2 separate regions of the Homo sapiens genome follow, and region 2 is linked to region 1. The links come from fine-mapping of genetic effects on gene expression. Tissue or cell type: lung. Region 1 holds a variant in brackets; the other region holds the start of a gene. All regions are shown on one strand. Distances are from middle to middle.

Region 1 (5,151 bases):
TTTGTGTCATCTAAGTTCAATACCCAAACAGCAAGCACAGCATCTCTGTGGGAAATGACTGGTAAACCTCCAGGAAAAAAAACCCTCAGTGTTCTTTTCATGGCTTATAGATGCTCTCTATAGACCTCCAAATTTGAAAGGCATCTATAGATACAAGGCTTGCATTTATTGAATAGATAGGCACTAAGAGTAACCTGTGGTTCTTTTTGTGGGTAGGATTTATGCTGAACTATATGGCATTGGTTAACTACTTCTAAGGGACTGGCTAATGTCTCAGTTCAATATTTACCTATTGAGAGTGCAACCACTCCATGCAAGCTTTAAATTAGTTCTGCATATGATCTGCAATTATAATTTTTCTAGCTATAGATTAATATTTTTAAAATGTACTTATTTTTCACAGATCCCATCCAGTGTACAAAATTGATTTTTATTTTATATTTTAGGAACAGGGTTTCATCATGTTGCCTAGAGTGCAATGAAACTGAACTCAAGTGACCCTCTTGCCTCAGCCTCCCAAGTTAGGTGGGAATACAGGCATGCGCCACCAAGTTTGGCTTTGCAAAGTGATATATAACTTCACTCTTTTTCAGAATAAGGTAACAGCAAGTAATGCATTTTAACCTCTTGTTCAAACCATATAGTAGTGTATATATGTTTATTAGAGGTTCTAATGTATTATTAAAATATTTTTCTCAGCCCCACTTGAACATCTGATAGCTTTGAAGGGCGGCTCTGGGAGTAACAGTGGGTGTTATCAATAGTCTTCTAAAATGTAAGCTTCCCAAAGGACTAGAAAAAAAATCCAAGACATATATTCAAATGTATTCTTAAGGATCACTCTATAAAAATAGAGAGTTGTGAATCTGCATCTGCCAGTGATACGCAGTGGGTAGCAAGTCATTTAACTGACTTGGTTATAGACCTTCGTATTTTAACGTATCTGCTACATCATAATATCACAATATGGAATAGTTCTTGCATAAAGTGCTCTGTAAAGCCTGTCTGCATAAATGTTTAATGCAGTACACTGGTAAAATAAGTCAAAACGTGTATCACTTGTTAAATGAAAGATTATACCAATCCAAAATAACTTCTACCAGAAAGAAATAAATACTGCATTGTTTTGTTGATAAAGTGTTTCAGAAGTTAGATTATTACATAAACCCAACTTCTAAGGCAGATAATGTTTTAAGTGATGATAGTCTTGTTGTTGGTATTCCCTGAGAATACAATCATTTTACCACTTAAAGTCAAAAATTTCCCCAGACAGTTGTAGCTCTTGGTAATCTCCTTGGGTCTGGAAACTTTTGAAGAGCCAAGCTGACATTTTTCAGCTCTTTGGGCCACTGGGTTTTAGAGGGAGAAGTCCAGAGATAAGTCCAGGCTGTAGCACAACCTTCAAAACAACACAGGCGCCTCTCTGATCCTGCCCTACCTAAGCTTTGACGGTAGTGGGGCTTCTGTCTGGAGAAATGCCTTCAAAGAGTAACCAGTAGGTGTGACATAGAATTGGCCAATGTTAGCATCTGCAGCCATCATCAAAAGATGAATCCACTGCCACTGCCCCCTGAGGGGCCCCTAAAATTGCAGAAGGTATCAGCAAGGAGGCTGCCAAGGTTGTTTTCCAAGAGAGGCCACAGGAGGAAGGGAGCTACTTGGGGGCACTTACATCTTTTGTGCAGAGGAGCTTCTTTTCATGAGAGCAGGACAGTTTTAATGACTTCTTAAACACTTGTGTGGGACAGGCTGGAGCATGAGGGAGGTTTTAAGCCAGGCACAAAGTTAGTTTCAAACACTAGTTAATAAATCTATTTTTATTTCCTTTTTCACACAGAAGCTGGTAGTCTAGGACCTACATGTAAACAACTTTATATGAATATTTTTTGTGCTTGGTTTACTTGGGTTGATATAATACACTGTATTTAAGTTCCCTGAACACTGGGATACTCCTAATGTTTATGAATGACGGAGGCTTTGTAAATTCATTTGTGTGAATAAAGTTATTTGGTGAGGTCAAATAATCCATATATGATTTGAAAAAAAAAAAGGTCAAAATTTTAAAGACAATTAACTGGAAATATTATATATCAGAAATTGAAAAAAAGTATTGGATAGAAGTTATAAATAAATCAAGCATAATATCTGGCATACCTGCTGCATG[A/T]ATAGGTGTCCTCTTCAAAATGTAATCTTTTACTAAGATTGAGGCTCCCTGATTAATGAGTACATCCACACATTCAACATGGCCCTTAAAAGCTGCAAGATCTAGGGGTGTTCTTCCACTACTATTTCTGACATCAAGATCTAACAAAGACTGTACCAACACTTCCAGTGCTTGATGGTGACCATGATAGGCCTAGAAATAAATAAAAATGTAAATTTAAAACATACATATTTAGACTGACTTCCTAAATACTTGAATAAATGTAAATAAGCAAACTTGTCTTCATATTATTATCCTACTTGAGATAATCCAAACTTCTACATCGAGAATTCAGGAAGTTAACTACAGATCTTTCTAATAATCAACATAGTAGGCTACTGTGTTAGGGAACAGGCATTCTAAAAATAATACAAGTTCAAATGACAGGTCATCTTTTCATGAGTATACAATGCTTGGCTCACGGCAGACATTCAATGGATGTGTGACACGGATTCATTTAAAGTCTTGATTTCAAGTCTGATTCTAAAAAGCCTGTGTTTTTTTTGTTTTGTTTTGAGACAGGGTCTTGCTCTGTTGCCCCAGCTGGAGTCCAGTGGCGTGATCATAGCTCACTGCAGCCTTGACCTTCTGGGCTTAAGTGATCCTCCCACCTCAGCCTCCTGAGTAGCAGGGACCAGAGGTACACGTCACCATGCCCAGCTAATTTTTCTTTTAATTTTTGTAGTGATGAGGGTCTCGCTATGCTATCCGGGCTGGTCTCAAAATTCCTGGCCTCAAGTCATCCTCCTACCTTGGTCTCTCAAAGTGCTAGGAATACAGGCATGAGCCACTGTGCCCAGCCAAGCCTGTGTTCTTAATCACAGTTCAGTGCTCCACATCAACTGCAAAGACAGCTAGCAACTTGAGTCAGTGCTTGAATATTCGGATTTCTCAAATTAAACTGACCATACCCACCCCATAATGTGCCATAGCTAAAAAAGAAGTAATTCTTTTAGCAAAGAAATGCATAACCGAGCCCTGCTTGAATATCACCACATACCAGGCATTGTCCTAGCTGTACAAAAGTAAGACTGAAGATTTGTCAGACTGAAGTTGTCTTTTTTTTTTTTTTTTGAGACGGAGTCTCACTCTGTCACCAGGCTGGAGTGCAGTGGCACAATCTCAGCTCACTGCAACCTCCGCCTCCCTGGGTTCAAGCGATTCTCCTGTCTCAGTCTCCCGAGTAGCTGGGATTACAGGCGCATGCCACCATGCCCCAGCTAATTTTTGTATTTTTAGTAGAAACGGGGTTTCACCATGTTGGCCAGGATGGTCTCGATCTCTTGACCTTGTGATCCGCCCGCCTCGGCCTCCCAAAGTGCTGGGATTACAGGCGTGAGCCACTGCGCCCGGCCCCGAGTTGCCTTCTTCATACAGTCTAATAAAAGGGCTTTCCAGAAAAGTCTTTTCAAAATCCAACATGGCAACTGAACATATATTATTTACACTGGACTAAATGCTGAGCAGGACATAAAGAAATAAATAAACTTCAAAGGACTATAATGCCATTTCTTGTAGAAAATGTCAGAAAGTAGCAGCAAGAGATAAACTTGCTCTGGGCCTCACTGATCTCTTTATAATGAATCTGTGTAGAAACTTGACTACTTAAGCTTGACTATCTCAAAGATTAAAGTGACTGTAGGTCACGGAATTCTACTGTTTTAGGATTACATCTAACTTTGTTCCTCAATACTAGGTCAATGAAAATTATGCTACTGAAAGAATGAACTCTGAGGAATCATACATTAAATATAAAAGACAATATAAAAAGAAGAGTTTAGCCAGTTGTGGTGGCTCACACCTATAATCCCAGCACTTTGGGGAGGCTGAGGTGGAAGGATCATTTGAACAGGAGTTTGGGGCCAGCCTGAGCAACACAGTGAGATCTCATCTCTGCCAAAAATAAATAAACAAACAAATAAATAAGCTGGACCTGGTGGCACATGCCTGTGGTCCCAGCTATGCAGGAGGCTGAGGCGGAAGTATCACTTGAGTCTAGGAGGTACAGGCTGCAGTGAGCTGGGAATGCACCACTGCAACCCAGCCTGGGTGACAGAATGAGATTGTATCTCTAAATAAAAAAAAAAAAAAAAAAAAAATGAGGTTGGGCATGGTCACTCACACCTATATCTCAGCACTTTGGCAGGCCAACACAGGAGGATTACTTGAGGCCAGGAGTTTGAGACTAGCCTGGGCAACAGTGAGACCTTGTCTCTACAAAAAAATAAAGAATTAGTCGGGAATGGTGGTGTGCACCTATAGTCCTAGCTACTCAGAAGGCTGAGGGAGGGAGGCTCACTGGAGCTCAGGAATTCAAGACTGTAGTGAGCCGTGATTGTGCCACTACACTCCAGCCTGGATGACAGAGTGAGACAATGAAAAACAACAGCAAAAATAAATAAAAAATAAAAATGAAAAGACAAGAGAAATAAATGGGAGCCATGATGATTTGCCACAGGGCTTTTCCCCCCATGATATCCTTGTATGGGACTGAGAGAAGAAGTCCAAATGTCCAGTATGACTAAAATTAGGAATCAAGGCCAGTCTCCTTAAGCCTCAGATCAGTATGTTTTCACTGTACCAAGTTGTCCCGAATGGGAGAGTTTCGTGTAAGAAATTAAAGTAACTTCTGAAAACCTCCTAGAGATAGATATGAAATGCAAAAGTGGTGGTATAATCATATTTCATTAAGCCTAATCACTAAATTATTTCAATTTTTAGTTTAAAAACACTATTTAGTATACCTATGGCATAGCAGCACTTATTCATAATAGCCAAGAGAAGAAAGCAACCCAGCATCTATTGTCAGATGAATGGATAAAGAAAAATGTGCTATATACATAACAATAATTATTCAGCTTAAAAATAAGGAAATTCAGCCACATGCTACAACATGGATGAAACCTGCTAGATGAAATAAGCCAGTCACACAACACAAAAAAATACTG
Region 2 (5,151 bases), 170 kb before region 1:
TACACAGCCTATCTTCAGAAGAATTAAGAGTCTATAAGCTTCTGAATATAGAATATTTTATATCAAACTGTTGGAAAATATTTCCAAAGGATTACAAGGAACAGCTTCCATTTTTTTAAAGCTTAAGTTTATTTCTGAACTGTGCTATCATAAAGCCATGGTGACTAAATTAGGGGGGCAAAGCCAAGTGACCACCGGAGAAAACATATCTTTGTGATACTGAGCTGGTTACCTTAGTGATTCCCGCTAGGTCTATTCCATTGTTTTCCCTAATGTCTAATGACCACATTCCCAGCCAGAAGTGCCTGTGGATGTGCGCACTGGTTGTTCTCCATCCCAACCCTCCCCTTGGCTCTCTGCCCTCAGTGTTCCAGTCCCTGACCTCCAGGCTCTGCCCTCTGGCTTCAAGTTGGGTTGGCCAATGAGAGGCGCTGCCAAAAGGTGCTTGGATGGGAGGAGAGAGAAGATGGTGTACTTCTCCTTCACTTTCTCCCTGCTTTAGGGCCTTCCATGACCAATGCTCTTGCTTAATGGCCCCTTCTCTAAGGCTCCAAATCTGCCTGGGATCCATTTTCCTATTTGCCCCTCTTGCCTTTTCAAGCACAGGGTGGTAAAGGCATATTGCAGTTGCTAATCTCTAGGTGCCTCAGCATTCCTTGTTGGTTCCCTTAACCCCGCCCACACCTCTCAAAGTGATCCCTTCATTCAGATCTTTTCATCTGAACCACCTGAGTTGCTTCTTTATCCTGCTGTTGCCCTGATTGGTACAGTCTGCAAAAAGCTTACCTAAGAGATATCTATGTTGTGCCAGGGTGCTCTCCAAGGCAAAGAGTTCAAAAGAAAACCAGAGGTTCTTTTCTCTCTAGTTTTCTGAACTCCTTAACCACTTTGGTGCTATTTAAATTAAGTAATACAAAATGATGGTAAACCCCAGTTTGCAGATGAGAAGCTTTTATTCATTCATTCATCAAATATTTATTGATTACTATGTGCCAGGCACTGTTCTGACCCTGGGAAAACAGTAAAGTACAAGAGAGACACATGCCCTGGCCACATGGTGCTTATAGTGTAAGGCCACTGTCTCTCAGAAGTCAGGGAGCTCATCAGAGGCAGGGCTAGAACCAGAAAACTGAGTTTCCTTAAGTCCTAACCTTCAGCAGATTCTCAAAGGAATCCATGACCCAAACATGATTAAGAACCACCAAATTAGGCCAAATTAACTCTCAAGCTTCTCCCTTGAACTGGGGAATGAATAATGACTACTCACTCCTAGAAGAAGCTTGATGCTCTTAACTTGAATTTGCAGGGGCATGTGGGCACACACCCACGGTGACACCACCACTCACCTTTCCTGCCCACCCTCCTGAATTCTCCACAAATCTGCCCCCACCTCCTTCTGTTTCTCACACTTTTATAATTAGCCTCACACCAGTCTCTGAGTCACTCCCTCATGGCCCACAAACGTTGGCTACACAACTTGCTGATGAGCTGTTTTTATCAATGGACAGCAGTTGGGAGCTGGATTCAGAGATGTGCCCTCTCTGAGAGCCTGGCATTTCTGGCCCTCCCTGTGTTTCCAGCAAAGGCAGCGATAGTGAAATTTCTGTCTCAGTTGAAGTATTTATGAGACTCATGTTGGAGGCATAACTAAAACTTTGCTGGGGAGAGTCAGGGGTCACTGAGGTGAATTGAGGGGGGCTGTGAGGGTCTGCCTGCCTCCTTCAAGCCCTCCGGAAACATTTGAGTTTCCTCAGAAAGGTTTAAATAGGCCATACTAGTAACCGAATACTTCCCCTGCTCTGGGTCAGACAAGACAAGGGCAACAGGCTGCTGACCTCAGAAAAGGTTGCAGGCTGGCAGACACAGCCCCTTCCCCAAATCTCCCAGCCTCATACCCGGCAGACACACTCAGCTCCAGACCTGGCTGTCACTGTGGAACCCCCTCCACTTCTCCCTGGAAAGCTCACTTCTCTCAGGACCTCCAGCTGCCTTGTCTGAGGCTGAAGGGAAGTCGCACCCAGGAAGACAGGTCTGGAGAAAGGGAAAACCTAGTCCTGAGGCTGCAACTGCCCCGCCGCTGTTCACCCCCCACCCCACCGGCCCCTGCCACCTGCATTTTCCCTTCGAGGGACTATTGTGGCCATGGATGCTATCTGGGTCTGGAAAGAGGTTTGTTTACTCCACAACAGCCCCTGTGAGGCAAGCCCCCTTCGAAGAGGTCAGAGATGTATTTATAGAAACATCTGAGACTCACTTCTCTATTACTTGCACACCTCTGTCTCTTTTAAGCTCTCCCAAATTCCTGACCAAGATGAAATCATGCAGCAAATGGGGAGAATAGGGGAGGCAGAAACCATTTTTCAAAGTGTCTCTGCTTTGAGCAGCCAGGTAGGAGCCGGTTGGAACAAGGACAGAAGGGGCTTCCGAGACAAGCTCGGGTGACAGGAAGCTGCTGGGGTGGCCGTCTTCCTTCCAACCTCCCTCCACCAACAGTTGAATGGCAAAAACATCAGGACACATTGCAAAACAATCTTCCTTCCTCCCCCTGTCCCCTGACAGATGGAAGAGAGGAAAGTTGTGGCCATCATTTACCTGCTGAGATTGGAAGAACGCTGTTGATGAAAGTCGGCTGAGACACGATAGAGAGGAAGAAAAGCTGAAGATAAATTCCCAAAGTCATTGGATTCAGGACAACCATGCTGGCCAGGGTCTGGCGAGGGTCAAGTTAGAAAGGAGGCTGCTGCGGAGCCTTGCTTATCTCTGCTTTTCTCTTCCTCACTGCTGTTTGCGTGCGCGTGTGTTTGTGTGTGTGTGTGTGCGTGTGTGTGTGTGTCTGTGTGTGTGTGTGTCTTTCCCTCTTTCTCTTTCCCTCTCCCTCCTCCTCACCCCCTCCCTCTCTCTCCCTCCCCCACCTCTCCTGTCTCCCATGCCTTTACCAAGAAAGAATGCCAACCATTTCCCATTAAACTGTCTCCATGCTACAGAGAGTTATATTTATCTCAAGCTCCATATCAAATGCCCACATTAAAATTAAGATGTCAAAATTTTCTTTTTTGGAGACTGAGGTAAGTGGCTAGTGAAGAGGTGATGAGAAGGCAGCCAAGTCTCAGATGTTCACTGGAGGCAGTCCTCAAGGGCAGAGAGATTCCTAATTGGTTATGTGCCACCATCTACCTCCTTGGAACTGGGCAGAAACAACTCTCCTGATTCAAACTGAATTTCATGGAGAAAAACCCCTCCACTGTCAGCCTGTGACATTTTTACCCATTGTGTAACAAATGTAAAGTTAACTTTTAATTTTTTTCTTTAATCATCCAATAAAAAGGAGGAAGGAAGTAGTTTATATTTCCAAACAGCTTTCTCTGTGAAAAAGTGTTTCTCTCTCCAAAAGCTGCAACCTTTTGATTCAATGCAAGGCAAAATAAATGAAAACAGTAAAAGTATAGAAAAGTGAATGATTTTTATCAAACTATATTCAGAAAAATAACATCACTAACTTAATCTTTGGCTAGACAAAATTATTCAAATAAAAATTATCACATTCTTAATACCTTTTATGAGTTTATAAAAGCCTGTTATAGAGATGATTAGATGACTAAAACAAAATAATAATTCACAGAGTTGTTCATTTTGCTTTAATTTACATATTACATGCCTCATAGGAGTTAACTCAGAAACAGTCTGCTAGTTACTGGATGCTGGGGTGGGCATCCTGCCCCTGTGCTCATTATGGGGAAGGTGGAGTTGGGTCAGGGCGTGGTATAAAGTGATATTTTACAGCTGTAGCACCACACTTGGGCTTGACTCTCAGCTCTGAGTGGCAGTGGACAAGCTCACCTCTCTAAGCCTCAGTTTTCTCATCCATACAATGGAGACAATGTTCCCTTTAAAGGTTTGTTGGAAAGTTAAGTGAGGTAATGGGGATGAATCCTACACGGATTAGAACTTGCACATAGGAACAGCACAAAGGAGACCCAAGGGAGCCATGGTAGCCTGGGTGCAAAGATGGCCTCCAAAAGTCCTCCCAACCCAGTGTGTGCATGACACTCTTCCCAGCAAAAAGCAGGGCTAGTTCCCCTCCCTTAAATCTGAGGTGGCTCTGTGACTTACTTTGACCAATAGAATGTGGCTAAAGGGACACTGTGCCATCTCCTGGCCTAGGCCTTAAAAGGCCTGGCAGCTCCTGCTTTTGCCTTTTCTTGAAAATCAGCTGCCACTTTAAAAAGTCTGGACTATTGAAGAGGCCACATGGAGGGGGAAGCAGCCAGCCTCCAGCTGTTCTGACTATCCCAGATGCAGCATCAACAGGCGAGTGAGGCCATTTTGGAACATCTAGCCCTGTCCTGGTCTCAGATGATGCCAGCCACAGGAGTGACCCCAAGTGAGACCCTCGAAAGAACTGCCCAGCCCAGATTACGAAGTCATGAGCAAATAAAACGGCTATTGTTTCAAACCAGTAAGTTTTAGGATGACTTGCTCATCAGCAATAGCTAACTGATACAGAGTTGATAAGGAAAGCTTTTGAAAGCATGAAAAATATACCTGAACTACATTCAAAATTTATAGGACAGATTAAAGAGAGGGTACCCCCATTTAGCTGCTCCCAAAATTTTTACAAGAAGGAGCTGTGATTGCTGGCCAAACTCAATCAGGACATTCTCAGGCTCACTCTTGTTAACTCCTGGAGCCCCAGCAGCCAGCTTCCAGTGGCTTGGAGAAGGTACAGTCTACCTGGGAGGAAGGTATCTTTTGAGTAACTTGGTGTCAGAATATGAATTTTTACTATCTAGCTCAGATTCCTCCTCTGCAAAGCCAGTATGACTTCTTCCTTCTCTCAGCACAAAGAATTCACCACTGACCATACCCTTGGAACAAATTCTGTCAATACGTCCTACCGGTGACACCTGCTGCTATTGTTTTTGAACACCACCTTGTGTTGCTATTTAGCTGGCATTAACATCCCTAAAGATAGGGGACTATCCCACAGCTCTATGTACTCTCAAGGCCCCCAGGACAGTCCTTGTCACCTAACAGATCCTCAACAATGTAAGTTACTTTGATCAAATCACACCACTGGGTAGGATGAAAAAAGAAGAACGTACAAAAGTAGCATAACTTTATGCTCCAGCTTTCTGCACAACTTGCATTTCC

The links. PIP is the estimated chance that this variant, and not a neighbour inherited with it, causes the effect.
Region 2: it holds the start of COLQ, and the variant in region 1 is fine-mapped to the expression of COLQ in lung (TOPMed, PIP above 0.99).

What each region holds. Positions count from the first base shown.
Region 1 is chr3:15,687,865-15,693,015 of GRCh38, forward strand. It overlaps ANKRD28 (ankyrin repeat domain 28), which reads right to left. Exons shown (of 28, transcript NM_001349278.2): 18 at 2,155-2,356. It also overlaps a transcript of BTD not described here. Among named protein-coding and RNA genes, the nearest start is that of MIR3134, 6.9 kb to the right of the region's middle. The variant A/T (reference allele first, on the strand shown) is at 2,165.
Region 2 is chr3:15,518,928-15,524,078 of GRCh38, forward strand. It overlaps COLQ (collagen like tail subunit of asymmetric acetylcholinesterase), which reads right to left and starts at 2,779. Exons shown (of 17, transcript NM_005677.4): 1 at 2,593-2,779. The coding sequence starts at 2,698.